Regions from separate parts of the Homo sapiens genome. Here all the other regions are linked to region 2. Evidence: fine-mapped expression QTL. A gene starts in region 2. Each other region holds a variant in brackets. All regions are shown on one strand. Distances are from middle to middle.

Region 1 (6,461 bases), 400 kb after region 2:
GTTAACGAACTGCAAACCTACTGTCATTGCTTGTCATTTCTTGACAGTGTTAAGTCCAAAAGTGCTGGGCATTGCCATCGCTCGGTATGACTTCTGTGCAAGAGATATGAGAGAGTTGTCCTTGTTGAAAGGAGATGTGGTGAAGATTTACACAAAGATGAGTGCAAATGGCTGGTGGAGAGGAGAAGTAAATGGCAGGGTAAGTTGGCCCTCTCGATGTGCTGGTGCATGTGAAAGAAGGGGACTGAGCAGTTGTTTGCACCCATTGTGGCACCAGGGAGAAGCCTCTATACTGTATTACAGCTTTCAGCCCACAGGCCTCTGCCCTCTGGAAACTGGTGCTGTGTTTTGCTGATACCAGGGACTCGCTGAAAATATTTGAAATGAATATGATAGTGACATAAATAAAATTCACCTGGGCAAGTGGGACAGCTTGCTGCTTGGAAAAGAGTCGAGGAGCATTTCAGTTCTTTTTAGACCCTGAGCCATAGAGCTAAACTTTATGTGTATTGCAAAATATCTATAAGAACTGCTGATGTAAATTGGAAAGAATGGGACATAGTACCTCTGTCTTTTCATCCTGTTCTACAGCAGAAATAGGAATCATTATGCAGCAGAGCCCCCCTGTATTATACTTAATTTACATATTTATTTGTGTGCTAGTGGATTAGAACACTGTTTATTTTATTCCTCCATTTCGATCATTTACTCTATTAGGCTTCTAAGAGCAGTTAAACCAATCTTCTCACCTACAATGGACATAAAACCCCAGTTTAATTGGGGTGTTATGAAAACAAAATACTCTGTTTGTAGAATCCTTTGAAGTGTCAGATACAAAGTCATGTTGCTGTGTTGGTTGCTTTTCTTTTTTAGGTGGGCTGGTTTCCATCCACATATGTGGAAGAGGATGAATAAATTCAAATCCCGTGTTGCACCCTGCACCAAAAATTTCAGAGAAGGGATAAATAGAAGCCTGCACAGCATCGTGAATTAACTGAAGTGTTTAAAAAGCTGCATTTCTGGCTGTTCAACATCCTCCCTCCTTAGCCCCTCCTAAGTCTTAATGCTGAGATTTCTAAAGATGCTGGTACTGACAGATTAATGGCTTGCCTAGAGCTGTGCAAGAAACAGCCTGCCAGTCTGTCATTGTCAGGGACCAGGGCAAAACCAAGAGCTGTTCTTCCCAGAAGAGCCCTGCAAACACATTGGTTCGTGCTTCCCTTTACTTCTTCTGGTCAGATACCATGAATGCCAGTCATCAGTAAATCTTAATACACTTTTGCTTTATTCTCACATGCCATTCACCAGATTATTTGATGGTACAAAGAAGCAGAAGTGTAATTTTCCTTTTCCCAGCATGACGAAAAATTGGAGTTCTGCCATTTGAGCAGCTTACTGGAAAGATCCAGCCTTACTTGTCTTAAATTGTCCAACAAGGTGACTCATTGCCCGGCAAACACTTTTACCCTCAGATGTTACTCATGATATTATAAAATATGAGGCCAGTGCTCAGGTTTGCATCATAAGTGAGCTATCCCTGAAGGGTTTTAATTACTTATTTGGTGTCCTGATTATATTTGCAAACTTCTTTATAAAAGGTGAAAAAAGCACACAAAAGAGAGGGTGTCTTCATATTAAACCTTCACAACCTTCATGATTTCATAGGATTATTTTGGAAATATAGCACTTGACTTTATGAAAGGATCTGGGCTAGGTATATTAAGGGTAGTTGCCAATAACCTGAAGAAGCTGGCATTGTTTACAGAAACAGATCAAGGGCTATAATTTATGTCATTTTATAGCAGCAGTATCTATTAATACATGCCTTTTCCTCCCATCCACCTCCCCCGCACACACACAAAGATGACCTGGGACATGATTTTTTTATTCCCACATTTTCTTGGAGCACAAACAACTTTGTTGAGGATTTTGGAAGGAAAGCACAACTGGGTCCTTTATTCATTTCTGGGACAGAAAGAGGGTCAGTGGACTTTTGTGGGCCTCCAGCTTCTCTCAGAGTCTCCCCCTCTGCAGCCCATCCTGGGAGTGTATTAACTGGAGGGAAGATGGGTCTTGCAGTACATTTGTTTTGCCCAGCCATCACTCTTTTTTGTGAGGAGCCTAAATACATTCTTCCTGGGGTCCAGAGTCCCCATTCAAGGCAGTCAAGTTAAGACACTAACTTGGCCCTTTCCTGATGGAAATATTTCCTCCATAGCAGAAGTTGTGTTCTGACAAGACTGAGAGAGTTACATGTTGGGAAAAAAAAGAAGCATTAACTTAGTAGAACTGAACCAGGAGCATTAAGTTCTGAAATTTTGAATCATCTCTGAAATGAAGCAGGTGTAGCCTGCCCTCTCATCAATCCGTCTGGGTGCCAGAACTCAAGGTTCAGTGGACACATCCCCCTGTTAGAGACCCTCATGGGCTAGGACTTTTCATCTAGGATAGATTCAAGACCTTTACCTCAGAATTATGTAAACTGTGATTGTGTTTTAGAAAAATTATTATTTGCTAAAACCATTTAAGTCTTTGTATATGTGTAAATGATCACAAAAATGTATTTTATAAAATGTTCTGTACAATAAAGTTACACCTCAAAGTGTACTCTTGGAATGGATTCTTTCCTGTAAAGTCTTATCTGCGACTCTGTCTCGGGAATGTTTTGTCTGTTGCCGTCAGCCGAACTTTGTTATGGAGGGAGCAGCCTCACACAAGCAGAAACACTCCTGTGGATGGTATTGTAGCATGTATTGTTTATTTTAGTCAATAGACCCTCTCCTTATAAATGGTGTTTAGTCTTCCTGTTGCATTTCATGGGCCTGGGGGTTTCCTAGCAGAGGATATTGGAGCCCCTTTTTGTGACATTACCAATTACATCTTTGTCCACGTTTAATACTTTGTTTTGGAAAATTTAAATGCTGCAGATTTGTGTAGAGTTCTAATACCAAAGACAGAAGTAAATGTTTTCCATATACTTTGTCTTGCCTGTATGCAGCCCT[C/T]GTGTAATACGGTGAATTAGAGTGGTATTTCACTTTGTATTATTTTGTAAATATGTCAATATAATAAATAGTGACTAAATTGATTTCTAAGAGTTGGAGTCTTTTTATTGAATGATCCCTGTATTAGTCAGGGTTCCCCTGAAAATGGATGGCACTGGATTGTTGGGCCTGTACCAGGCCATCGCCAGCAGTCCAGAGTGAACAGAAGCAGTGTATGTGTGGAGGTCACCACCCCCCCGCCCGCCAGCCCCGTGGACGCTATGCGTCTAGTAGGAGGGCCGCTGCGGTGAGTCTTGAAGCCCAGGGCTGGGCCCGGGCAGAGCCGCCGCAGGTGCAGATGTTGGTGGTAGTAGCACATATTCTAAAGAGAACTTCAAAGGCCGAAGTGGAGAAGGGTTCCATGTGAACAGCAGTTGGACATGGGTCATTCGGTCCTGAGAAATAGGTGAGCGCCATTCTGAATGGACAGGCGATGGCCTCTGTTGCCCTCAGCCAATCGAAAGGGAGTCCGGTTCAGATCCCGAATCCGGAGTGGCGGAGATGGACACTGCCAAGCGTCCAGCACAGTAATGCGAAGGATCCCAGAGAAGCCAATGGAAGCCCCGGGGAGAGTTCTTTTCTCCTTGTGAAGGGCAGGGCGCCCTGGAATTGGGTTCGCCTGGAGAGAGGGGTCCGCGCCTTGGAAAGCGTCGCGCTTCCAGCGGCATCTGGTGAGCTCTGGAGGGCCCTTGAAAGTGCGGGGGAGAGGGTGTAAATCTCGCGCCCGGCTGTACCCATATCCACAGCATTCCTCCCTCTGGAACTAAGACCTCTAGGCCAGCACAACAGAATGTCGCGGGAACAGGAAGCAAAAATTTTGCTAGTGGATCACTTAGGGTGATGGTGAGTGGTGCCACTTCCACTTCCACCCCCTGATTCCTGGACCCTTGAATCCTGGCCATGGGAGAAACAGTACCATACATTGGACACTGATTCAGAGCATACACGGCCTTCTAAAGAATTTTGTCCCATCCCTGCAAAGTATTGTCACCTAGTTGGCATTGTAATTGTGACTTCAAAAGGCCATTCCACCTTTCTATCAATTCAGCTGCTTCAGGATGATGGTGAATTCCATGAGCATGAGCCCACTGCTACACTTCTTTAGCCATAAAGTGAGTGCCTTGGACAGAGGCAATGCTGTGTGGAATAGCATGATTGTGGATAAGGCATTCTGTGAGTCCACGGATGGTAGTCTTGGCAGAAGCATTGCATACAAAATAGGCAAACCCATATCTGGAGTAATTGTCTATTCCAGTGAGGACAAACTTCTGCCTTTTCCATGATGGAAGAGGTCCAATATAATCAACCTGCCACCAGGTAGCTAGCTGCCTGATCACCCCAAGGAATGGTGCCATATCGAGGGCTCAGTGTTGGTCTCTGCTGCTGGCAAATTGGGCACTCAACACTGGCTGTAGCCAGGTCAGCCTTGGTGAGTGGAAGTCCATGTTGCTGAGCCCATGTGTAACCTCCAACCCTGCCACCATGGCCACTTTGTTGATGGGCCCATTGAGCGATGACAGGAGTGACTGGAGAAGGAGGCTGAGTGGTGTCCACAGAATGGGTCATACTAGCCAGTTGATTATTAAAATCCTCCTCTGCTGAGGTCACCCATTGGTGAGCACTCACATGGGATACAAATATCTTCACAGTTTTTGGCCACTCAGGCCCATCCACATACCTCTTCCCCAGATTTCTTTGTCACCAATTTTCCAATCATGCTTCTTCCAGGTCCCTGACCACCCAGCCAAACCATTGGCTACAGCCCACGTATCAGTATATAATCACACAACCAGGTGCACTGATTGAAGTTCTGCCCACTGGAAATATTTCCCTTCAGCACTGTCCTTCAGGGATGTCTTGGAAAGGGGCTGTAGTGCTGCAGCTGTCCACTTTGGGTGATGCCTGCATATCATGAAGAACCATCTGTGAACCAGGCCCTAGTCTTCTCTCCTCTGTCAATTCATCATAGAGAACTCCTTATGCGGCCATTGGTGCAGGCTAGGGAAGAGAAAGCAGGGTGGCAGGAGTAGAGACCATGGGCGTTTGAGCCACTTCCTCATGTAACTTACTTGGCCTTCAAGACCTGCTCGAGCCCGATCACGTATATACCACTTTCATTTGATGATGGAATGCTGCTGTGCATGACCCACTTTATGGCTAGATGGGTCAGAAAGCACCCAGTTCATGATAGGCAATTCAGGTGGCATGGTGACTTGATGACCCATAGTCAAATGTTCAGTTTCCACCAAAGCCCAGTAGCAATCCAAGAGCTGTCTCTCAAAAGGAGAGTAGTTATCTGCAGAAGATGGCAGGGTCTTGCTCCAAAATCCTGGAGGCCTCCACTGTGATTCACCTATGGGGGTCTGCCGAAGGCTCCAAACAGCATCCCTATCTGCCACTGACACCTCAAGCACGATTGGATCTGCTGGGTCATATGGCCCAAGTGGCAGAGCAGCTCGTACAGCAGCCTGGACCTGTTGCAGAGCCTTCTGTTCTGGACCCCACTCAAAACTGGCAGCCTTTCAGGTCACTTGATAATTGGGCAGGACTAATATACCCAAATGAGGAATGTGTTGCCTCCAAAAGCCAAATAGGCCCACTAGGCATTGTGCCTCTTTCTTGGTTGTAGGAGGGGCCAAATGCAGCAACTTACCCTTTACCTTAGAAGGACTATCTTGACAGGCCCCACAGTCCCATAACACACATACACCAGCCCCATAATTAACATGGGGATTAAGCCCTAATTTTGTTTAAGTTTAGCTCAGGATTGCTGCCTAAGTTATGAACAGTGAACTACAAGGTAAACTCAATAGTTGCCAATAACATGTATTGGCATGCTTACCATGTGCCATGCTCTGTTCTAAGTGCTTTATTTGCACCAACTTACAACAACCCCCAAAGGTAGAACCCCATAATATTTTCATTTGCACATGAGGAAACTGAGGTACATCAAGAGGTTGCAACTTTCCCAAAGTCACACAGCTGCTAAGTGTCAGAGCTGAATTCTGACTTGGGTGGTCTGGCTCCAGAGTCCGTATAACCACTACCCTATCCTGCCACACTTTGTAGGGCAAGAGAGAGATTTCGTACATTTTTAAACTTACATAACCGAGAAGAAACTATACGATACTAAACAGTGGTTTGAACAATGAAAGGTTAACACAGAATTCAGAAATATGCCACTATTCCTGCCACCTAAAAGAAAACCCAAAAAAGATATTGCCTAGAGAGATTAGTATCAGATTGAATTTTCGTTTCTACTTTGATTCACTCTTGCACTAGAAAATGGCTGCTAATCCAGAGAGGCTTGGAGTCAAGTTTCCCTTGGTGGAGCAGGCCAGCTGATAATCCACAGTGATGGAGTCTGTCTTAGGGAGAGGGTGGAATCACTTCATTCCTTCTAAGGACCAGGAAAGGCCA
Region 2 (6,718 bases):
CACACAAAAAAAGCAGGCCAGGCGCGGTGGCTCACGCCTGTCATCCCAGCATTTTGGTAGACTCTTGTGGGCGGATCACCTGAGGTCAGGAGTTTGAGACCAGCCTGGCCAACATAGAGAAACCCTGTCTCTACTAAAAGTACAAAAATTAGCCAGGTATGATGGTGGGCGCCTGTAATCCCAGCTATTCGGGAGGCCGAGGCAGGAGAATCGCTTGAACCCGGGAGGCGGAGGTTGCAGTGAGCCAAGATCGCACCATTGCACTCCAGCCTAGGTGACAAGAGTAAGACTCTGGCTCAAAAAAAAAAAAAAAAAAAAAAAAAGAAAAAAGCAGATCTTTTTTCATGTGACTCTTATGCCTGTTACAAGTAATGCTGGCAAATCCTTCCTGATCTTTTCACCACCAGAAAGACAGGATAGAAAGGCAGAGAGGGATGGAGGGAGAGCAAGAGGGTTAACATAGCTTGTTCATTTATTTACTCACCAAACTAATATTTATTGTTTGTCATGTGACAGGCACCAAGGTTGGTTCTGGGAATTTGAAGATGAATGAGTTACCACCCTTGCCTTCAAGGTGTTTCAGTCTAGCAGGGAGAACGATGTTTAAACCAGTAATTAAGCTTGATACAGCAATTATTTTAATGCTGAGCCACAGCTCTGAACAGAAGGGGCGCAGATGTGGAGACACAAGCTCATCCTTTTATTGAGTTCCCTAATAAAGAGCAAGATGCTTAACTCTGTTGATCTCTAGCTTCTTCATTAAAATGGGTGGGAGAGCATCTTCTCACTTGCAGACAGTGCATGTAAAGTGCCCAGAAGAGTGCTTGACACATAGTGGGCATTCAGCAAATGGTAGAGTGTGGATGTACTACAGGGGCTATGAAGGACTCAAGGGCAGTAGGACCATAGGAGGGGTCCTGAAGTCACACGTCAGATATGCAAGAAAGAACTTCTTGCACACCGCAAGAACACTAGGTACCAGGATTAGCAAGGAGTTGCCACTGATGAGTTGGTCCCTATTTCCCAACTTGCCTTCACTAGGTGGAACATTTCCTTTAAGGTTGCAAAGGGAGGTCAGTGCGATAGCTCACACCTGTAATCCCTGCACTTTCAGAGACCAAGGTGGGCGGATCACTTGAGTTCAGGAGTTCGAGACCAGCCTGGCCAACATGGTGAAACCCCCATCTCTACTAAAAATACAAAAATTAGCCGGGTGTGATGGTGCATGCCTGTAGTCCCAGCTACTCGGGAGGCTGAGGCAGGAGAATCGCTTGAACCCAGCAGGTGGAGGTTGCAGTGAGCGGAGATCGTGCCACTGCACTCCAGCCTGGGTGACAGGGCCCTGTTCCCTGCACTGGACCCCACTCCCTCTCCCTTGTCCTCCCCAGCCTCTGCCTCCTGCTCTCACTTACTGCTCTGATGACCAGCCAGGGCAGGCCTGGAGGCCGAGGTCAGTGGTTTGTTGGGACAAGGGCTGGTTCCCAAAAAGCCCCACAAAAATTAACCAGGTGTGGTGGTTTGTGCCTGTAGTCCCAGCTACTCAGGAGGCTGAGGCCGGAGAATAGCTTGAACCCGGGAGGCGGATGTTGAAGTGAGTCGAGATCTGCTGCACTCCAGCCTGGCTGACAGAGTGAGACTCTGTCTCAAAAAAAAAAAAAAAAAAATTGTAAAGGGAAAAGACTGTAATTTTTTCCTTTAGTAAGGATAACTCAGGTGAGAAGCCCATTGCATTTTTATTGCACCAATTTCTGACACTTAAATGTCTTTCACGAGTCACCTATTGGCACTTAGCTCCTTGTTTACGTGAAGAATCCCGTGTCTCCACTAAACTCCTTCCCTTCTAGGCCTTCCATATATTTTCCTGTTGCCTTTCTATCAACTCTGTGGTTTACTATATTTGAGAAGCATTATGTTTTGAAGTCATATATTATATACAGAGAAGTGAAATAGAATATTTGGTCGTTGTTGCCACTTGTTAATGAAAAGTGGCTACTATTGGGTAATATTTATTGAGCTCTAATTATCAGGCACCACACATTCTATGCATTGTATCAGTGCTTCTTGGCTTTTGATGGAAATACATGGGATATGGAGATCTTAAAATTCAGGTTCTGGTTCATTCAGTATGAGAGTAGAGGCCAAACGTCTACAGTGCTGACAAGTTCAAGGGTGATGCTGCTGTCCACAGGCTGCATTTTGAATAGCAAGACATTGTACCATTTGATCCTGACAACAACCCTATTAGTTAGAAATTACTTCTTATGGCCAGGCACGGCGGCTAACGCCTGTAATCCTAGCATTTTGGGAGGCCGAGGCGGGCGGATCACGAGGTCAGAAGATCTAGACCATTCTGGCTAACACGGTGAAACCCTGTCTGTACTAAAAATACAAAAAAAATTAGCCGGGCGTGGCGGCCGGCGCCTGTAGTCCTAGCTACTTGGGAGGCTGAGGTAGGAGAATGGCGTGAACCCGGGAAGTGGAGCTTGCAGTGAGCTGAGATCGCGCCACTGCACTCCAGCCTGAGCGACAGAGCGAGACTCCGTCCACCCCCCACAAAAAAAAAAAAAAATTTCTTATTTCGTATCTATGGAAACTGAACTGTAGAGAATTTATCCAAGGTCATGTTGCTAGAAAGCAGTACAGCTCGGGCTCTAAATCCAGATTTGCGTCCTGGGATAGTGTATATAATGTGGATTTTGGAAATATTCTCCAACATCCAAAGGTGATCTGATGCTACCTGAAAAAAATTCATAGTTTTAGTTTAAATTTTGACCCGTTTAATGAAATTTCTTTTTAATTTCTCTTTATGAAAGACTGTGTTAAATGGTGATTCAAATGTGTTGGATTTTGCTTCTAAAGGTATGTAGAGATTAGTATGATTTATTTGCCAAAATTATGGCCTAGAAAATGTCGTGCTATTGATGGAATCCGCATTGAACACAAGAGGAAATTGCTAGGGAAGGATGCGTGTGAGGAAAGGAAATCCTCAGGCTGATTTATTGTTCAGCGCTGAGTGTAAACAGTGTGCTATCCTTGTCACAGCCAAACGAAAAAGGACGCAATCACTATCCTGAACAGATCATTCTTTTAAAAATAATATTTTGGCCTGCTTATAAAGCATGGTTCGTAATAAAAAATTTGGGCTACAGAAATATAATACAATTAAATTATCCAAACTCCCATCTTTTTGTTTGTTTGTTTGTTTGTTTTTTGAGACAGAGTCTGGCTCTGTCGTCCAGGCTGGAGTGCAGTGGCTGGATCTCAGCTCACCGCAACCTCCGCCTCATGGGTTCAAGCGATTCTCCTACCTCAGCCTCCCGAGCAGCTGGGACTACAGGTGCGTGCCACCACGCCCGGCCAATTTTTTGTATTTTTAGTAGAGACGGGTTTTCACCGTGTTAGCCAGGATGGTCTCGATCTCCTGACCTCGTGATCCGCCCGCCTCGGCCTCCCAAAGTGCTGGGATTACAGGCGTGAGCCACCGCGCCCGGCCTATTTTCTAATTTTAAGTGAATGCATCTCAAAAGGGTGACGAAGGACCACATTCCTATCGAACAGCAATAATTCACTGTGGCAATATCTTGCCACAAATAATTTAAACATTAATTGTGGTTTTGAGGGGCAGTGTGCAGTGGGAGTAAAAGGGGTAGGGTTTAGAGTCTCCAAAAGATTTACTTAAGAAACACGAATGCACTGCTTGTGCACTGCGCAAAAGTTCTGGGGTCAAGTTCCAACTTTCACTAAGGATCCCAGAACAGCCCGGCAGGAGCTGCCCAGGGCTAACGCGCTTTGCTCTCAAACCCGGCCGCCAGTCGCCGACGCATGCGCAGTCTAGCACCGTGGCACAGGCCTTTCTCAAGCAGGTTTTTGTGGGGTCAGCAAAAGGGCCAGAACAGCAACGGCAAACAGTTCCGAGCCTGACAGTGCAGGGGCAAACCAGCTCCAAGTGAAAATCACCTCGCGAGGAAATAGGCTCAGGGATCGGGGCGGTTTCCGCAGGCGTCTCCACACACGCACTCTCACTCACTTTGAGGGTGCCAAAACACCACTAGGGGCAACTAGGAGGAATAGGCTGAGGAATCAGCTATAGAGAATGGAGGGGATAGAGCTGCAAGGGGCGAGGGGGCGACGATCTCTAAAACTTTCAGCGCCGTGCTCTACTGATGCTCTAGGCACTTTTTTCATTGCTCTGGGGAGTCTGGGTGCCCCAATTAATCCGTCGCTCCTTTGAGCATTTGTTGTTTAGGGGGTCCTGGGGGACCCCATCGTATTACAGTATTCAGCCACACTCCCCGCAAAGCCGGGAAGCCGCCCCGAGAGAAGACCCCAGGACGCCGGGGGCTGCGTGAGCCCCGCAAGGCTGCAGGCGGGGGCGCGGGATCCCCTTTCTGGCCGCCGCCCCCCTCCGCCGGCCCCTCCCCCGCGCCCCGCCCTCGGCCACAGACCCCAGCCCCGGCCGCCGGCGCGCTCCCACCCGCGCGTCTGGGGACTTGCGGACCGCAGCGAGACCGGCCGGCGTGCTGGGCATGCTCAGTGGCGGGCCGGGCGCTGGAGTCGGAAGCCTGTGCGCGGCAGCCGCCGCCGAGCCGGCCGGGGCGCACGGAGAGCGCGCGGGACTCGCTGCAGCGGCGGCCGGGTCGCGGCGCACCCGGGCCGGGACCGGAGCCGAGCCTAGCGCGGCGCCCGCGACCCGTCAGCCGCGGCTCCTGCTCCCTCGATCCCGCGCGGGGAAAGGGCCGGCGGCTGTTGGCGTCGGCGGGGCGCGGAGGAACCGCGGCGGCGGCGGCGGCGGCCGCATCCTTGCCGCCCGCCCCGGCCCAGCCGCGTCCCGGAGCCGTCGGGCATGGAGCCGTGGAAGCAGTGCGCGCAGTGGCTCATCCATTGCAAGGTGCTGCCCACCAACCACCGGGTGACCTGGGACTCGGCTCAGGTGTTCGACCTTGCGCAGACCCTCCGCGATGGAGTCCTGCTCTGCCAGCTGCTTAACAACCTCCGGGCGCACTCCATCAACCTGAAGGAGATCAACCTGAGGCCGCAGATGTCCCAGGTGAGGAGGCCGGCACGGGCGCCCCGCCTCCAGCCGGCAGCTCCCATTAATCATGCGGCTAATTTCTTTGTGTAAATGCAAACGTCTAGGTGCGCTGAGCTTGCCCTGCTTCCCAGCCTTCTGCTTTGGGACCACTTCGGCACCACTTTGGCGTTTCCTACCTTGGCTTGAAATGGTTTAGCTCCTCAAGCTGAATGCGAAAGCTTTGCGTCCGGAGATGGTGTGAGGATTTCGTAAAGGCTTTCTGTGAGGCGGGAAAGAAATAAGTTGTCTTAGGGTGCCCTTCACCTACTCTGCGTGTGTGTGGCGCGACAAAGGGAATTTGATCAAGCTCTTCTATAATAACGAAGGGGAGGGACGAAACGAGGTGATGGGGTAATTTGCCTTTAGTCTCTTCTTTTGCTTTGCGTCTTGTACTCATGTTTTCCTAAAAGAGGAACCATGACATACATGAGGACTCGAGGAAGTGAAGGGCGTTTGGTCCCGTTATCTGTCCAGGAGTGACATTGGTCAAAGGGAAGAACAGGGAGCAGAACCCGGAGGCCGCCCCCAGGGCCCCTGAGCTGGTGGCCAGCCGGCAAGCTCCCGTTTACAGCTCTTCCTAAGCCATGTGAGAAGGAGCGAGTCCAGCCTCTCTCAGCAGCGACAGGAAATGAGAAGTTTCACTAGAGATTCCGCTTTCCTTCCTGCAGTGCCCTGCTCAGGTGCTGTGGTGCCGGTCGGCTCCTGGGGCTGGAGCTGCCTCTTTGAGGGTTAAGCCAGACACCTCTGGAAGGTTGGGTGCACCCTAGAGTCAGCTCAAAAGTCACAGTTCAGTGGAAGAGTAGTTTATTTGTCCTGTCGGAAAATTTTTGTACAGAAGGATGTTAAACTCGGTTCAGAGCCTCTTTCTCTTTCAGAATGTTAAAACAAAACAAAAAACCAAACTGCTTTCAACTTAAAAGGGAGAGGACAGAGCCCTCTCCCTGACACATTTCAGCACTAATCCTCTATGACGCAGAGCCTCAGCTACTTAGCAACCAGAGCAGCGCCTTTTAAGAAGGAACGGACTTTATATGATTTAATAAGTATGTATTTAAAGTTAGAGCACACACAGTCATCTGTGATTCTTGGTGTCAGTGTTTCATCAGGGTCCCCTGCACTTCAGATTCTGCATTCCTTGCCTGTTTGCCTTCAACCTGCTGGTGGGCAGTCCCTAAGAAAGAACAGGCATGGAAGTGGGGAGAGCCATACGTATTTAAAAGTGAGGTAAATTATTTTATACCCCCATAAACATGCATGGTGATTGCTACCTCTCGGTACCCCTTCAGAGTTGTCTCAACTCTGGAAATTCCTTTGAGGGGTTTGGCAGACTTTTCTATTATGGTGGGAGCTGCAGTTAGCTACTCTCACACATCCCCATTTTCCACTTTGCCTGTAGCCTCAGGAGGCAGCGTGGGTCAGGATGCCTTGGCCCACCAGTAGGGAGTACAGTACTGTGCACATTTCCTGGAACTTGTTTCCTGGAACTCTCAGCAGTTGCTCTCAATAATCACGTTTTCTGGACAGCTGAAGACCTTTTTAAACCTCGAAGCCTTTATTTGAATGCTAACAATGGATGAGAATCGTTTTGAATGTGTTTCACTCTTCTCCTCTTATGTTAGATGTAATTTAATCTTTCTGATGACCAAA
Region 3 (5,000 bases), 180 kb after region 2:
AATGGTGGTATGATCACATTAATAGTTTTGAAATGTCATACAACCTCTATGGTAGCCAAGTAGAGGATGAAATTGAAGGGAGTGAAATTGTAGGCCTGGAGACATATTGGAAGCTATTCCAATAATTGAGGCAAGAAATAGAGAGGGCCGAGACATAGCAGAGGCATGGGAGGAGAGAAGGGATTGGATCTGAGAGAGTCTGAAAAGGATGAATTGACTGATAGGATTTAGACCTGGCACTTACTTCCAGAAAGTTTCCCCAATGTCTGGCCAGGTGAAGGAGAGGAGTGGGATTGTGGGGTCATTGGGAATGGGGAGGAAAAGCAGGCTAGGAGGAAAAGATGCTCTGTTTGGGGTCTTCAGAGGCAGAGTGTTGAGGTCAAGAAGGCAGAGACGGCAGGACCATAGTGGTGCGGAAATGCCTAATGAGGCAAGTGCAGTCCTGTTTGCTTTAGAAAAAATTTGCTCAATGACCTTCTTTCTCTCAGAATCTGAAAAATATCCACTTTTAATCAAATAAGAAATATATCATTCAGAAAATGGCAACCACAAAAAGCTTCTCAGAGAATAAGGTGCAAGTGAATCTACTTAGAATACACAAGTATTCTCACTGGAGTACGATGTGATGATGAGAGGGGTGGGCCAGAGACTGGTCATTCTTGCCCATCAAACCTGTATCAACCTGAAGAAAGAGAGTCTGGCAAATGTCCAGGTGCCCATCAAGATGCAGACTAGGATCACCTCTTTTAAAGATGCCTTTGAACCCCTCTAGCTCCCTCTGCCCACGAAGGGGTGCAACTGGCCTTGCTGTCTCCCCTGGGCTTCAGATGTTGCTTGTCATACTAGTCTGTGTTTTCCCTCAGTACCCTTCATTGTTATGGTCTTTCCTAATAGACTGTTGGTTTTTTGAGAGCAGGAAGCATTGTATCCTCATTTTGCTCCCTGAAGCTTTTGGAGTGTGTGTCTGGTGTATCTAGCACAGAATGAAGTGTTCAGTAAATACAAGAAACTTATAGAAAGGGTAGTGAAGTGGAAAGAGCAATAACCAGGACAGAAGAAAAGGGACCTGGTACTAACCCTGCTACTATTAGTTGTTTAACCTGGAGCAAGCCAGTTTTTCTGGGCCATGGTATTCTGATAGGCAAAGGAAGAGATTTAGTGAGAATCTGGAAAGTCCATAAATGGTCCTTCAGAGGTCCCTGGATTTCTTGATATTAGATGCAGACTTTATATGTGTTTTTGTGTGTGTATGTGTGTATGTGTGTGTGTAGATAGGTGGGTTTAATTTTTTGAGTAAATGAGTGATAGCTTTCATCATACTCTCAAAGGGATCTATAACAAAATAATAACCACTGAATAAAACATGATATCTCTAGAATTTGTAAGATAGAGTTGTGGGGCCTGGGTATAGGCATTCAGCTAAAGGACTTGTCTGGAAATTGCTATGAACAAACACACCCTAGTTACACAGATTTTTGTGTTTATTTGGAGTAGAGAGGTGTGGCTTCTCTGAGCCCATCCTGTGTACTATCCTTTCTTAGAACTCTTTCAGTTCTATGTGAGGTCACACTCACATTTTGTTTTCTGAAGTACTTTACAAAGACCAAATCTGACTTTACCGATGATGATGAGGATGATGACAATGACAACAAAGGTGATGATGACGTTAGAAATAGCAGCAGAAGTATAGGACATTCTTCTATGTGCATATATCTGTCTGTCTGTCACCTCTTTAACGCTGAAAGTAAACTTGTTTGATAAGTGATGTTTTAATTGTAATTTCGTAGGTAAGGGAACTAAGGCACAGAGCCTTGATCATCTTGACTCCCGTCCTTACCTTGCTAGTAAGAGATGGAGCTGGTCTTTGAACCCAGAAAATCTGACTTCTGAGCCTGCACTTCTAATCAGCCCAGTATATGGCTTTTTTTTTAAAGGAAGTTCTTGTTCTCTGTAGTT[T/C]CACTTTTGAAGATTCAAAAAATAGTAAGTATAGAATACTTCTTAAATTTATGATTGTTACCAAGGACAGCACAAACTATAATTTGGATCCATTTAACCTATATAGATACTCTACTCTCTTGAACAATGGAAATGTATTTCCCATAGTTTACAGTCTTCCTGACATAGAAATGTTTTGTTGATCTTATCTGGCTGTACTGCTTTGCTTTGCCCATAGAGGAGGTGCTAAGGACATTTTTCAACAGCATCCCACAGATCAAAGCAACAAGCAGGTGCTTCAGGAAATCCCTAAGATGTGTTGCTGGAAGTGACACTAAGCTGTAGTGTATCCTAATGGGGGTAATTTACTGTGTGAAATTAGAGTTTCGAAGAAAATTATGATAATGAGTTCTGTTGATTTCCTGGGAGAGTTAAGGTGAAACATGTTGTTAGTCTGAAATTTACCATCTGGTCTGGTTTAGAATTAGACCTAATTGTCAGATAACCTGGTGTCTGGGATGCCTGGATAGTATCAGGTCTCTGGGGTGCCTCTAGCTTGCAGTTGACCTGGTCTACAGACTATGCTTCTGTCTGAATTTCTCCACCCAGCACTCATGCCCACACTCCCAGTTCCCTCTTCTGGGGCCCAAGTTTTTCTCCACAACCCCACAGGGCACTTGCTCTGATCCTTCAGAAACCAGGATGCAACATCTGTGCCTTGAGCCTCTGCTGCTAGATAGCAACCTAATGTTGTAGGGGTGTGATGCCGTGGACCCCTTCTTGAACCCCCAAGCTCGTCTTGCATTTGGGGCTCTAGCATGCAGCTGCCTGATTGCCCTTGCAGAGCCCACCTCCCTGTAAGTACCCTTTCCCTCGGAATTCCTTTTGAACCCAGGTTGTTGTTACTGAACCCGGCCTTTCCTTTTGGGTCTGGTATGGGTTAAGTGGTGAGATTTCAGAATAGAGAACTCAAGAAGATAAATCCATAATTAATTAGCAACTTTTTGGCAGACCTACATGTTGGTCTCATGGCTTCCTCTGGTTACTGTGGCTGTGCCTTTCTTAACTCAGGACCTTAAAGGTAGCCATAACATACTGCTCCTGCTTAGATGACTTGTTTTAATTACAAATAACATCAACAGCACTAATGTGCTAGAGAAGCAAAGAGTGGACATTTGCCCGAATGTCTCATGAAGAGAATAGTTTAAAATGGGTAGTTTTATCAGTGTACAATATCACCAGTCTGTTTTCAAAAGCTGTTTTATTTTGTGGTTTTTAAATTAACTAAGGGATGAAAAAAATAAAGAGCTAAAACAAAATAAAAATCATCATTGGTTGAAAATGTTTCATAGGGGAACATGTCAGTATGTTTGTTGGCTCTAGGTTTGAGTAAATAGACAACACTGTCTCATATTTAATGTTTAATTTTCACAATGGATTCTTCAACTATTCATTCTCCACTTGTGCCAGGTTGAGCCCTTTACATATCTGGACACCTATTATCCCTAATCTTTAAAACAATTTAGCAAGGTATTACTCTTTTATTTGTTTAAGCCAGAAATATTTTTGTGTTAAGTGGTTGCTGTGAGCCTGTCTGTGAACTAGGTGATGGAAATACAACAGTGAAGAATCACTTTGATTCTACTGCCCTTAAGAAATTTTCCGTTGTCAGATTGAAAGACCAATGAACAGATCACTGGCACGGCTTATGTTTTTATATACTCTTCAGGGGTGTCTAAATTTATGCAGATATTTTTCATATTGAAGCAATATTTATGCAAATATATTGAATATCATGCCTTTTGTCCTAGTCATCCCATTTAAAAATCTTTCCTATAGCAAAATCTGCACATAATTGAAAAGATCTTTGGCGAGAAAAATAATTGCAGATTTTGCAGAAAAATGTTGAAAAAGCTCATTGACAAGAGAATGGCTAAATCATTGCTGTTTATATACACTGAAATGTTACACAGCACTAAAATGAATAAAGTAGATGTATACATATGACATGACTCTGCTTTATTGTTAATGACAAAAGCATGCTGTAGAAAAATCTGTATAATAGGAATACATTACTTAATAAAGCAAAGGAAAAAAGAAAAACTCTGCCAGAGTCATACCAGATTTTTAGCTATGGTCCCATTTAGGCAGAAGAGAGAGGAGAGGTGTGAAGGGCATCTTTTATGTATTACTGTATTATTTCAGCCTGACAAAGTAAACATGTATTCTTTTGAAATATATATATATATATATTTGAGATAGGGTCTTGCTCTGTCACCCAGGCTGGAGTGCAGTGGCACTATCTCAGCTCACTGCAAGCCCCACCTCCCAGGTTCACACCATTCTCCTGCCTCAGCCTCCCAAGTAGCTGGGACTACAGGTGCCCGCCACCATGCCTGGCTAATTTTTTTTTTTTTTTTTTGTATTTTTAGTAGAGATAGGGTTTCACTGTGTTGGCCAGGATGGTCTCGATCTCCTGATCTCGTGATCTGCCCGCCTCAGCCTCCCAAAGTGCTGGGATTACAGGCGTGAGCCACCAGGCCTGGCCTGAAATATTTTTAAAAGCCAATAAATTTTCATTTTAAATGAGGTGATAGATGCTACGGTGGAGTTATGTCCGGGGTCCTATGGGGACACAAAGGGGACACAGACCATGGGCCAGAGAAGGCTCCGTGGAGGAGTGGGTGGCCTCACTGGGTTCAGGATGGTACATGTCCACCATGTAGAAGACACAGAGAGAACAAGGGCTTCTTGCTTGGAAGCATCCTGGAGGCTTTTCTGGTAGGCGGCCTTGGGGCTGTCCACCTCCAGAGCCTTAACAGCTAGCCCAGGTCATCCTGGGTTCTTCTTCCCTTAGCCCTCACAGAGCATCAGCTACTATTCCTGAACACTCCTCCCATTTCCACTACTTTCCTGTCTACTGCAGCCATCTTGGTTCCAGTGCCTCACCTCTCACTTGGGTGGTTGAGACAGCCCCCTCAGTTGGTCTCCTGGCCCCTTCTCTGTTCCCTATGTCCTCTACCCCAGTCTGCCCTTCACTTTGCTTTAAAAAGGCAGTTTTGACC
Region 4 (5,000 bases), 120 kb after region 2:
GTGGGCTCCACCCAGTCCGAACTTCCTGGAGGCTTTGTTTATACTGTGAGGGGAAAACTGCCTACTCAAGCCTCCCTCCCCCACCAAGCTGGAGCATCCCAGGTCGACTTCAGACTGCTGTGCTGGCAAGGAGAATTTCAAGCCAGTGGATCTTAGCTTATGGGGCTCCATGGGCAGGGGATCTGATGAGCAAGACCACTCGGCTTCCTGGCTTCAGCCCCCTTTCCAGGAGAGTGAATGTTTCCGTCTCGCTGGTGTTCCAGGAACCACTGGGGTACGGAAAAAAAACTTCTGCAGCTAACTCAGTGTCTGCCCAAATGGCCACCCAGTTTTGTGCTTGAAACCCAGGGCCCTGGTGGTGTAGGCACCAGATGGAATCTCCTGTTCTTTGGGTTGCGAAGATAGTGGGAAAAACATAGTATCTGGGCCGGATAGCACCGTCCCTCGTGGCACAGTCCCTCAAGGCTTCCCTTGGCTAGGGGAGGGAGTTCCCTGACCTCTTGCACTTCCTGGGTGAGGAATGCCCCACCCTGCTTCTGCTTGCCCTCGGTGGGCTGTACCCACTGTCTAAGCAGCCCCAATGAAATGAGCTGGGTACCTCAGTTAGAAATGCAGAAATCACCCGCCTTCTGCATTGGTTTCACTGGTTGCTGCAGACTGGAACTGTTCCTATTCAGCCATCTTGCCCAGAATCCAGGAAGAAAACTTTAAAAGTTAAAGTCTCTTATAGGTTAGTTAAAGTTATGTCTTATATAAGATAGTTTCATCATGAATACTTCTCAGTTTCCAGTTTTGTTTCTTTGTCATGAAGTTCATTCTCTTCTCCCTTTTCCAGGAAGAATCATCTTCTTTGAACCCCCACAGTGGAAAGCTCCCCGCTCTGTAGGGGTACGTTTTATCCTAGGATTATCTGTCACAACTGAACAGGCAAAAGACTCCCCCAAAAATGCATTTTTCCGTGTCTGATTTTATCAGTCTGGAATAACCCCATGGGGGGAGAGGGTGAAAAAACTTGGTGCAGACAGTGTGGGATGAAGTTTGGCTTTCTATGTTCCAGCCCCTTCTGAATATTCCTCGGTAATGTGGAGGTTTAAATACGCCTGCTCATACTTCAGCAGATGGCTAGTGAATTGAACCACCTTCCTCATATATATATATATAAATATATATATATACACACACACACACGCACACATACATTTTTAATCTCAACAGTGTAATTCTAAGACAAAAGTCTATAGATGATTAGTGAACATTTAGAGTTGTGATAGAAATCCAATTTGAGCTACCACTAGAACTGATAATAACTAATGTTTATTAACTATATATATATATATATATATATATTTGTGTTGTGCTAAGGGCTTCACATATCTAGTCAAATTCTAATGACAATTTTATTAGTAGGTACTCTTATCATCCTTATTTTATATATACAAAAACTGAAGCACCAAAGGTTTATAGGAAACTTACTCAGGATGTGTGTTTAAGAGTCAGGATTTAAATCCAAGTAGCCTGATTCCAGAGCTGTCAGTTATAATGCCCACCCAGGAGCATTATGCCTTAGGTTGAGCATAATGTGGAGAATTTGACTCATAGGTTTCACGATAAATTGGAACAGCCAAACTATTGGGAAGGGCGGAGTAAAGGTGGACTTCAGGAACAAGTGGAACCAGGAATTCAAATAGCATTCTCTCTGTCTGTCTTTTTTCTCTACTTTTTTCTCAGTAGGTCTGCTTCTGCTCTCATCATAGATAAAGTTCCTCATGATAGGAATATGAACACTTGATGTTAATATTTCCATATTAATGAAATTAACCATCATTAATTTCCATATTATGTTAATATTTCTCTCATTGGAGAGACTGTTTCTTAGCTATGGTTATAAAAATCGGGAGAAATTTCTAGACAGATAACGATATCTGCCTAAGTCTGTGCCCCCTCCCAAAATATCCTACATATGATAGAGAACAAGAAGAAAAATTAAAATGCGTAAAAATGACACCCCCTGCATAACCAGAAAACCAAGGACACCCAAACTTCAAATTAACTAAGTTTTAAAAAAAAGAAGAATGAAATCTCATTGAGCTATCTCTCATACCTTGCCTCAAACCTTTGCTGTGAACAAGAACAGTTTAAAAAGCTGCATGGGAGAGAAAAGAGATGCCAAAGATTAAAGTGAAACTACTGCCACAGAAGTTCACCAGATGGGTGGAAGTACCGAAACAATTTCCAGTTTGGCTCACAAAGGCCCAACTATACACTGTTTATAAGAGACACACCTGAAACAAAATGATTCAGAGGTACTAAAAATCAGTGGGAAGGACTGCAGTTGCCTCACCTTGAGTCAGCTGTTCACTCCTGGGCCACTCAACTGTGGCCAACAGTGCAGAGTGCTTTTTATTTTTAGCTATTCATCTCGCAACTCCCTTCCCTTGCCATTCAGCTATGTCCAAGGTAGTGGACTCATTTTAGAATTTGG[G/T]AACTAAATGTTTAAAGCAATGTCTTAAAGAAGAGGGGTTCCACACTCAGAAGAGGGAGGTACTAGGTAGACAATATAAGTATGAAGGTAAACATTTGCTAGAAATTGTTTTTCAGTATTCTCTTTAATATTCTTATTAAATTGATTTTTGTTTTTGAGTAATTTGGGGCATGAGCAATGGTAGTATAGAAAAATTTATTACTAGGTAGTGAAACTAGAATAATGCTGTCTAATAGAAATATGAGAGCCATAAATGCAAGCCATGTAATTTTAAATTTTCTAGTTGCTACATTTAAAAAGTGAAAAATTAATTTTAATAATACATTTTATTTAACCCAACGCACCCCAATTATCATTTAAACATGTAATCAATACACAAAGTATAATGAGATATTTTCTGTTTTTTTTCCTTATTCTTCCAAACCCAGTTTGTATTTACACTTACAGCACATAGCAATTTAGACTAGCCTCATTTCAAGTGTCTAAAGTGATGGACAGCTCAGACCTAGAGAGAGGAACAGTCATTTAGTCATTTTAGCATAATAAATGAAAAATAATACTTGAATCCTAAAATGTGTTTTATTTCTACTTCCCATCGCAGTTAAAGTGTGCCCTATCTAATGCTTTTACTTTGTGTTTTTGTATGTTAATGATACCTATTTTAAATTGGGGCATGTTTATAGCTTGATCTATGGCACCCACAAGCAGTGATGGAGTGGAGAAAGATTGTTTTCTCACCTCCTTTAGATCTCTGTTTAAATATCCTTGTTATAGATGCCTTTTCTGAACATTTGAAACAAAATAGCAACCGCTACTGTTTCTCCTCAGCCTTCTGACAATTTCTGTGCCCTTTATATTGCTTTAGTTTTTTTCCCCATATTTCTTATTACAGCTGATATACCATTTATACTTTTAAAATTGTTTCTTTTTCTACCCCCCCCTTTCCCCTAAATACACCAGAATATGAACTTTGTTGAGGACAAGAACTTTGTGCTGTATTCACTGCTATGTTACCATATCCTAGAACAGTACTGCACATAGAAGATGCTTAGTATTTTCTGAGTGTATGAATGAATGAATTTAAGACCATATGGCATTCACTATTGGTGTATATAATGGAACTCCCATCATCATTCCCCTGAGTGGTCTCCCTTTGGTACTGGCCAACTCTGCCCTACCACACTGCTGTCAGTCAGCTTAAACCTCAGTTCTTCTAGCTAAGACCATGGCAGTAGTCTCATTGTGGTCTCACTGCCTCCAGCCTTCCCGTATAAGCTATTTGATTGCCAGATGAATTTTTTTTTTTTTTAAAAGCATCTCTGAACATGTTGATCCCTTGCTCAGAGTTTTCACTTCCTTCCAGTGGTTTATAGTTCTTCACACTTGCTTTTAGGAGTCTCTGAAATATGCTGTACTTATATCTTGGTCTGTTGCCAACTAGACAGTTTGCCTTTTATTTTTAAAATGCTTTCAGTGCTTTCTCCTCTTCTTTTCCTTTGTATCAACTACTTTTTGTTCCTAGTCACTTTTTTTCCTTTCCTGCCTTGACCAGAACCCCTGACTTAACTTTTGTTGCTTCCTTTACGTTTCTTTAGGGCACGTTAAGAACGTTAACTTTGAGCACTTCCTGATGGATTGATCATAGAAAGGCTGTGAAATATGAATAGACAATGAAATGTCATCAAAGCAAGACCCTTGGCATGTGTGCCAATGGTTAAATGCTCTGGAATGGAGCATTTGTGGCTGAGAGGGAAATGTTTATATCTGTTAAAGTGCAGGGACTGTCTAGAATAAGGCACTTTATTAATGAACATCCTTTGATAACCTATTCCTTTACTACCTTGTCTTTAAGTGGTGCCAATCAAGAAAGGTCTTTGCACAACTTTAAAATATACATGTTGTTTTGTAGCAAGTAAAAAGTGACCTAAATGCTTTCTAGCATATTGAAGCACCAACTTTTTATGTATTGAATTTAAAGCAGTGATTTACACTGCTAACACTGTAACATTTACAACATTTACAACATTACATTTACAACATTACAACATTTACAGGCTAACAGCAAAACATTTACAAGTTTCTATAGAGAACTTTAGGAAGTATTCTTTCTATTTTCTGGAAGAAATTGTGGATTATATTTTCCTTGAACGTTTGGTAGAATTCACTAGTGAAACCATCTGGGCTTGATGTTTTCTTTTGGAAGGTTATTAATTATTAATTCGACTTCTTTAGCTGATACAGGTCTGTTGGTATTATCTATTTCTCCTGTGTGAGTTTGTGTCTTTCAAGGAATTGGCCTGTTTCACCTAAGTTATCAAATTTGTGGGCATAGTGTTGTTCATTGTATTCCCTTGTTATCGTTTCAGTGTCCATGGAATTAGTAGTAATGATCTCTCCTTTATTTCTGATATTAGCAATTTGTGTCATCTTTCTTTTTTCTTGGTTTGCTTAGCTGGAAGTTTATCAGTTTTATTGATCTTTTCAAAGAACCATCTTTTGGTTTTATTGGTTCCTCCTA
Region 5 (5,000 bases), 140 kb after region 2:
ACTTTTAGTTTAGAGACATATGGGATCACCTCATTTCGAATAATGGGACCCTAGATTTCTTACCTTCTTCAGCATCTGTGGGTTCTTTTACTCTTAAAATAGTGTTCCTGTTCTTCTATTTCTTTTGGTTAATATTGCTTTTTATATTTTTATATTATTTCTAATTCTTAATAAGATTCTGCATGGGGCCTAGTAAATCATTGTGACTAACCACTTAGTTATTACTAGTGATTATAAGGAATACATTATATATGTTTATAGTTGAGCCATACTACCTTTTACAATTAATATATTGAAATATTTTAACTGAATTTAACATTCAGTTAAATGTTTTATTTAACTGAAAATGCTGCATACATAAAATGTCCTCTTGCTGGAAGTACAGATATAGATAGTGTATATGTTCCAGTATTTTTAATTAAGGAACACCTGTAGGTTGTTTTATTTGTTTGGGGTTCTGCTTACTTCCTCAGAAGGCTGGCCGTATTTATCTGTGGATCCTTTTCAGTACTGAGCAGAATACCTTGTACATTGGTTCTGAAAATGTACATGTCATTATCCATTTGAACCTCCGTATGGGGCCATCCTCATCAATATACACATGTGTTAATAGTTTCCTTCACTGTAAAACAAACAAACAAACAAAGAAGTTCCTTGCTTCCATATTCCCCCGTTAGTTATCACCTTATTCTCATTTCCCTTTCTCAGAAAAATTTCTTGAAATAGCGACGCTATGTGCATCTTCACTTTATCCCATCTCTTTTGTTTTTCAGTCTATTCCAATCTGGCATTTGTTCCCATCACCACATTACAATTACTTTTATCAACATCACTCATGAAATTTATATTCTGTATACTGGGACACTTCTCTACCCTCATCTTAATCAGCTGTTTGCCAGTTTTCTACTCAGTTCACGTCTCCCTGCTTCTTGAAACCTTCTTCCTCTGCTGCTTTGCAATGACACTGGTTGAGTCTGTTTGGACTGCCGTAACAAAATACCACAGTTAGAGTGACTTAAACAACAAGAATTTATTTTCTCACAGCTCTGGAGGCTAGAAGTCCATGATCAAGGTGTTTGCAAATTGGTTTCTTGGAGAGCTGTCTTCCTGGCTTGCAGATAGCCACCTCCTCACTATGTCTTCTCATGACCTTTCCTCAATGGATGGGCATTAACAGGGAGCAAGCAAGCTCTCTGGCTTCTCTTCTTATAAGGACACTAATCCTGTCAGATCAGGGCCTCACCCTTATGACCTCATTTAACCTTCATTACTTTCTTAGAAAGCCCATCTCCAAATACAATGGTACTGGGGTTTAGGGCTTCAACATAGGAGTTTTGTGGAGATACAAACATTTGGTCCATTAACAGACAGTCTCGTGACTTTCCTACCACCTCACTGGCCATTCTTCTGTCTCTTTGCTCAGCTTTTCTTCCACTGCTTGATCTCTAAAATTTGGAGTTCCACAGGCTCTATTCTAATCTTTATTATTTTTTTTTAATGCTACCCAGCCCACGTGGGGAGTCTCAGCCATTCCCATTGCTTCACTTATCATTTCTCTACAGGTTCTCCCAGATTTTAATCTGCACAGTAGGTCTCTTCCCTAAGTTTCAGACTCACAGTCAATGCACATCTCATCTGAACTCAAATTTAGTAAGTCTAAAATGGAACACTTAATTTCAAAATTCATATATGTGCTTCTTCCCCATCCTTCATTTTAGAAAATGGAAGAATCATTATCTGCAGTTTCTAAAATCATAAACCTGGACACTATTCTTGATTCCCTCATGTCTGTCATCACTGTTGTAAGCAAGTTTTTCTGATTCTGTCTTCAAGAGTCATCTTGAATTTTTCCATCTTCCTCCTTCTCCTTTGGACTTTGAAGCGCTTTCTCATCGATTGGATAGTGGGTAAAATATTACTTTTCTTGTCTCTTCAGCCTAAGTAGCAACTCTGAATATCCATTCCCACAGTCTTCCCTATTATATCAACTTGTTTTATTGTCTTCCTAGTATTCTCTCATCCAAAATTTTATGGCCTGTTTATTTGCTTACTTGTCTTTTGTCTCTTCCTTTGAGAATGTAATATTAACAGAACAAGGAAGGGTCTTGTTAACTTCACTCTTCACATGTCCATATTACCTAGAAAAGTGCCTGGTATGTAGTAGGTGTTCAAGACATAATTATTATAGAAGGAATGAACCTCTTTTGCTACTATTTTAGTTCATGCCAACATCATCTTTTGCCTGGACTATTACAGTAACCAAGTACCCCCATTTTTTCGAAGAGATCATTTAATTATTTTTTTATTATTTATTTATTTATTTATTTATTTATTTATTTTTTTTGAGATGGAGTCTCGCTGTCTCCCAGGCTGGAGTGCAGTGGCACGATCTCGGCTTACTGCAAGCTCTACCTCCCAGGTTCATGCCATTCTCCTGCCTCAGCCTCCCAAGTAGCTGGGACTACAGGCACCCGCCACCTTGCCCGGCTGTTTTTTTTGTATTTTTAATAGAGACGGGATTTCACCATGTTAGCCAGGATGGTCTCGATCTCCTGACCTCGTGATCCGCCTGCCTTGGCCTCCCAAAGTGCTGAGATTACAGGCATGAGCCACCGCGCCCAGCCCATTTAATTATTTTTTTTTCCCCTCTTTTTTCTCATTCCTCCAGTTCCTTACTTCCCACTTATCCCTTTGGAAATGCAAATATAACCCTTTGCCTTCCCTTCACCATACATTCCCTACAGGGCAAGTTCTTCTAACCATGGGCTCCAAGATTGATCTCTCTTCCAGAGTTAACAATTTACAAACCAAAGCATGCCCACTGTGGAACTCTCACCCACCAGGAGTTTTGCCTCAAGAGATAACAGTCAAAAAGTATGCCTGCTGCTCTCTCCCACCTGGTGAGTTTTTGCCCTAGTCCTGCCCACAAAGGCACCAGCAGTCACCAGCTCAACCAGTCAGTAGATAAGGCACTGAAGCTGGCATAAGGACCCCAATCCCCGGCTTCCTCCCCTGCATGC[A/G]ATTTCTCTTTAAAAGTGCCCACTTTCTGCTCCAAAAGCAAAGCAGTACACTTAAAGGCAGGCCACCTGTACTTCTTCCCCTAAGATAGCTTTGGAATAAATCACTTTCTTTATACGAGACCTTGCTCTTGTTAATTGGACTCTGCAAGCGGAGAGTGAGGAAACCTGCATTTCGGTTACATTACTAACTAATCAGGTCTCCCTTTCCTGCTCTTGCCTTCCTGCAATCTATTTCCATAGAGCAGCCAAAGTATCCTCTAACAGTTCATCTCACACTGTGCACTCCCCAGCTGGAAGCTTGTCTTTGGCTTTTCCATGCATGTCCTGGCCCCTCCAACCTCCTCTGTCTTCCATTTTACTGTGGACGTGTCAGCTGTCTACCAGCTCCTAGAACACGCCACACACTTTCTCCCACCTCTGAGTCATTTACTTTGCTGGTGCTCTTCCTGGATTGTTCACGATCTTCACATGACTGGCCCCTTCTCTTTGAAGGTTTTATGTCACAGTGTAAATGACACGTTTTTAGAGAGGCTTCTTCTATCTGAGTTGGGTTTTCCCTCCTTCATTGGCCCAGCACCAAGAAGAATTTCTTCACAGAACTATTGTCTATAATTGTTTTATATCTTTGTTTACTGTCTTTCCCATTTTTGGCTTCATGAGGAAGGACATTCTTACTCTTTTTTGTATTTTAATGTCTATCATAGTTCTGAACAATCAACACTTATTTGCCAAATCAGTGAATACACATGCTATAACATTTATGTTTTTCCTTAGGTGTCTGAAAATAGTTTGTCTTCAGGATTTTGTCTTCTAAGGATATGATAACAACAATGATTATTTAAGAAACTTGAATAACAAGATTAGTAATGTTTCTATAATATCTTCTTCTATAGTAAATCTAAAGTGAGGAGCTTGCTTTTTTATATTGTATTTTTCCAGAGACAGCTTCATGAGTCAGAGGTACCTCTCAATATATGACTCACATAAGACAGTGGATTTATACTGTCAGCTGCCTTTTTATACCTTCAGTCATCTAGGTCATTAGGCAGTTTGCATTCTTTTCTCTTGGTTATATAGGTATTAAAGAAACTTGCCCCTTATTATACATTAAAAAAGTGGTAAGCTCCTATTTTTTCTTCTAAGTATATGGATTGGAAAGACTTTTAAAAATGGGTGATCAGAGAAATGAAGGTCAGTTTTTTCCTAATTTTTAATTTTTATGAGTACATAGTTGGTACATATGTTTATGGGGTACATGAGATATTTTGATACAGACCTATAAGGCTTAATAATTACATCAGGGTAAATGGGGCATCTGTCGACTCAAATATTTATCATTTCTTTGTGTTATAAATATTCCAATTATACTTTTAGTTATTTTTTAAATGTACGATGAATTTTTAGTAACTGTAATCACTCTGTTGTGTTATCAAATACTAGATCTTATTCATTCTATCTAACTCTATTTTTGTAACTATTATCCATCCCTACACCCTACCCCCCCACTCCCCTTCCTAGCCTCAGTAACCATTCTTCTACTCTCCATCTCCATGAGTTAAATAGTTTTAATTTTTAGCTCCCACAGATGAGTGAGAACATGTGAAGTTTGTCTTTCTGTGCCTGGCTCATTTCACTTAGCATAATGTCCTCCAGTTCTATCCATGTTGCTGCAAATGACAGGAATTCATCATTTTTTTATGGACGAATAGTACTCTATTGTGTATATGTAGCACATTTTTCTTTATTCATTCATCTGCTGATGGACATTTAGGTTGCTTCCAAATCATAGATACTGTGAACAGTACTGTGATAAACAGGGGAGTGCAGATATCTCTTTGATATACTGATTTCCTTTCTTTGGGGTATATACCTAGCAGTGGGATTGCTGGATCATATGGTAGTTATATTTTTAGTTTTTTGAGGAATCCTCTTACTATTCTCCATATTGGCTATACTAATTTACATTCCCACCAACAGTGT

Alleles and levels. Positions count from the first base shown, and alleles are read on the strand shown. Sizes are in standard deviations (SD) of each study's normalised expression. Not every link is listed here.
For the expression in NK cells of the gene that starts at base 4,533 in region 2, C is the high allele of the variant in region 1 and T is the other (large effect, 1.3 SD a copy in Gilchrist 2021).

The links.
Region 1: its variant is fine-mapped to the expression of VAV3 in NK cells (Gilchrist 2021, PIP 0.95). The same link has a PIP of 0.9 or more in monocytes, monocytes after LPS, monocytes after interferon gamma and monocytes after triphosphate RNA.
Region 3: its variant is fine-mapped to the expression of VAV3 in blood mononuclear cells (TOPMed, PIP 0.95).
Region 4: its variant is fine-mapped to the expression of VAV3 in whole blood (INTERVAL, PIP 0.95).
Region 5: its variant is fine-mapped to the expression of VAV3 in whole blood (TOPMed, PIP above 0.99).

Annotation. Positions count from the first base shown.
Region 1 is chr1:107,567,785-107,574,245 of GRCh38, reverse strand. VAV3 (vav guanine nucleotide exchange factor 3) reads left to right here. Exons shown (of 27, transcript NM_006113.5): 26 at 48-199; 27 at 874-3,085. The coding sequence ends at 915. Among named protein-coding and RNA genes, the nearest start is that of MIR7852, 330 kb to the left of the region's middle. The variant C/T (reference allele first, on the strand shown) is at 3,003.
Region 2 is chr1:107,962,995-107,969,712 of GRCh38, reverse strand. It overlaps VAV3 (vav guanine nucleotide exchange factor 3), which reads left to right and starts at 4,533. Exons shown (of 27, transcript NM_006113.5): 1 at 4,533-5,047. The coding sequence starts at 4,844. VAV3-AS1 (VAV3 antisense RNA 1) reads right to left here and starts at 5,270. Exons shown (of 3, transcript NR_046653.1): 1 at 5,209-5,270. RefSeq lists enhancers at 3,747-3,816, 3,752-4,046, 5,393-5,522.
Region 3 is chr1:107,783,250-107,788,249 of GRCh38, reverse strand. The region is part of intron 2 of VAV3 (vav guanine nucleotide exchange factor 3); the gene reads left to right. Among named protein-coding and RNA genes, the nearest start is that of MIR7852, 110 kb to the left of the region's middle. The variant T/C (reference allele first, on the strand shown) is at 1,957.
Region 4 is chr1:107,839,713-107,844,712 of GRCh38, reverse strand. The region is part of intron 2 of VAV3 (vav guanine nucleotide exchange factor 3); the gene reads left to right. Among named protein-coding and RNA genes, the nearest start is that of MIR7852, 55 kb to the left of the region's middle. The variant G/T (reference allele first, on the strand shown) is at 2,483.
Region 5 is chr1:107,819,997-107,824,996 of GRCh38, reverse strand. All of the region lies in intron 2 of VAV3 (vav guanine nucleotide exchange factor 3), which reads left to right. Among named protein-coding and RNA genes, the nearest start is that of MIR7852, 75 kb to the left of the region's middle. The variant A/G (reference allele first, on the strand shown) is at 3,021.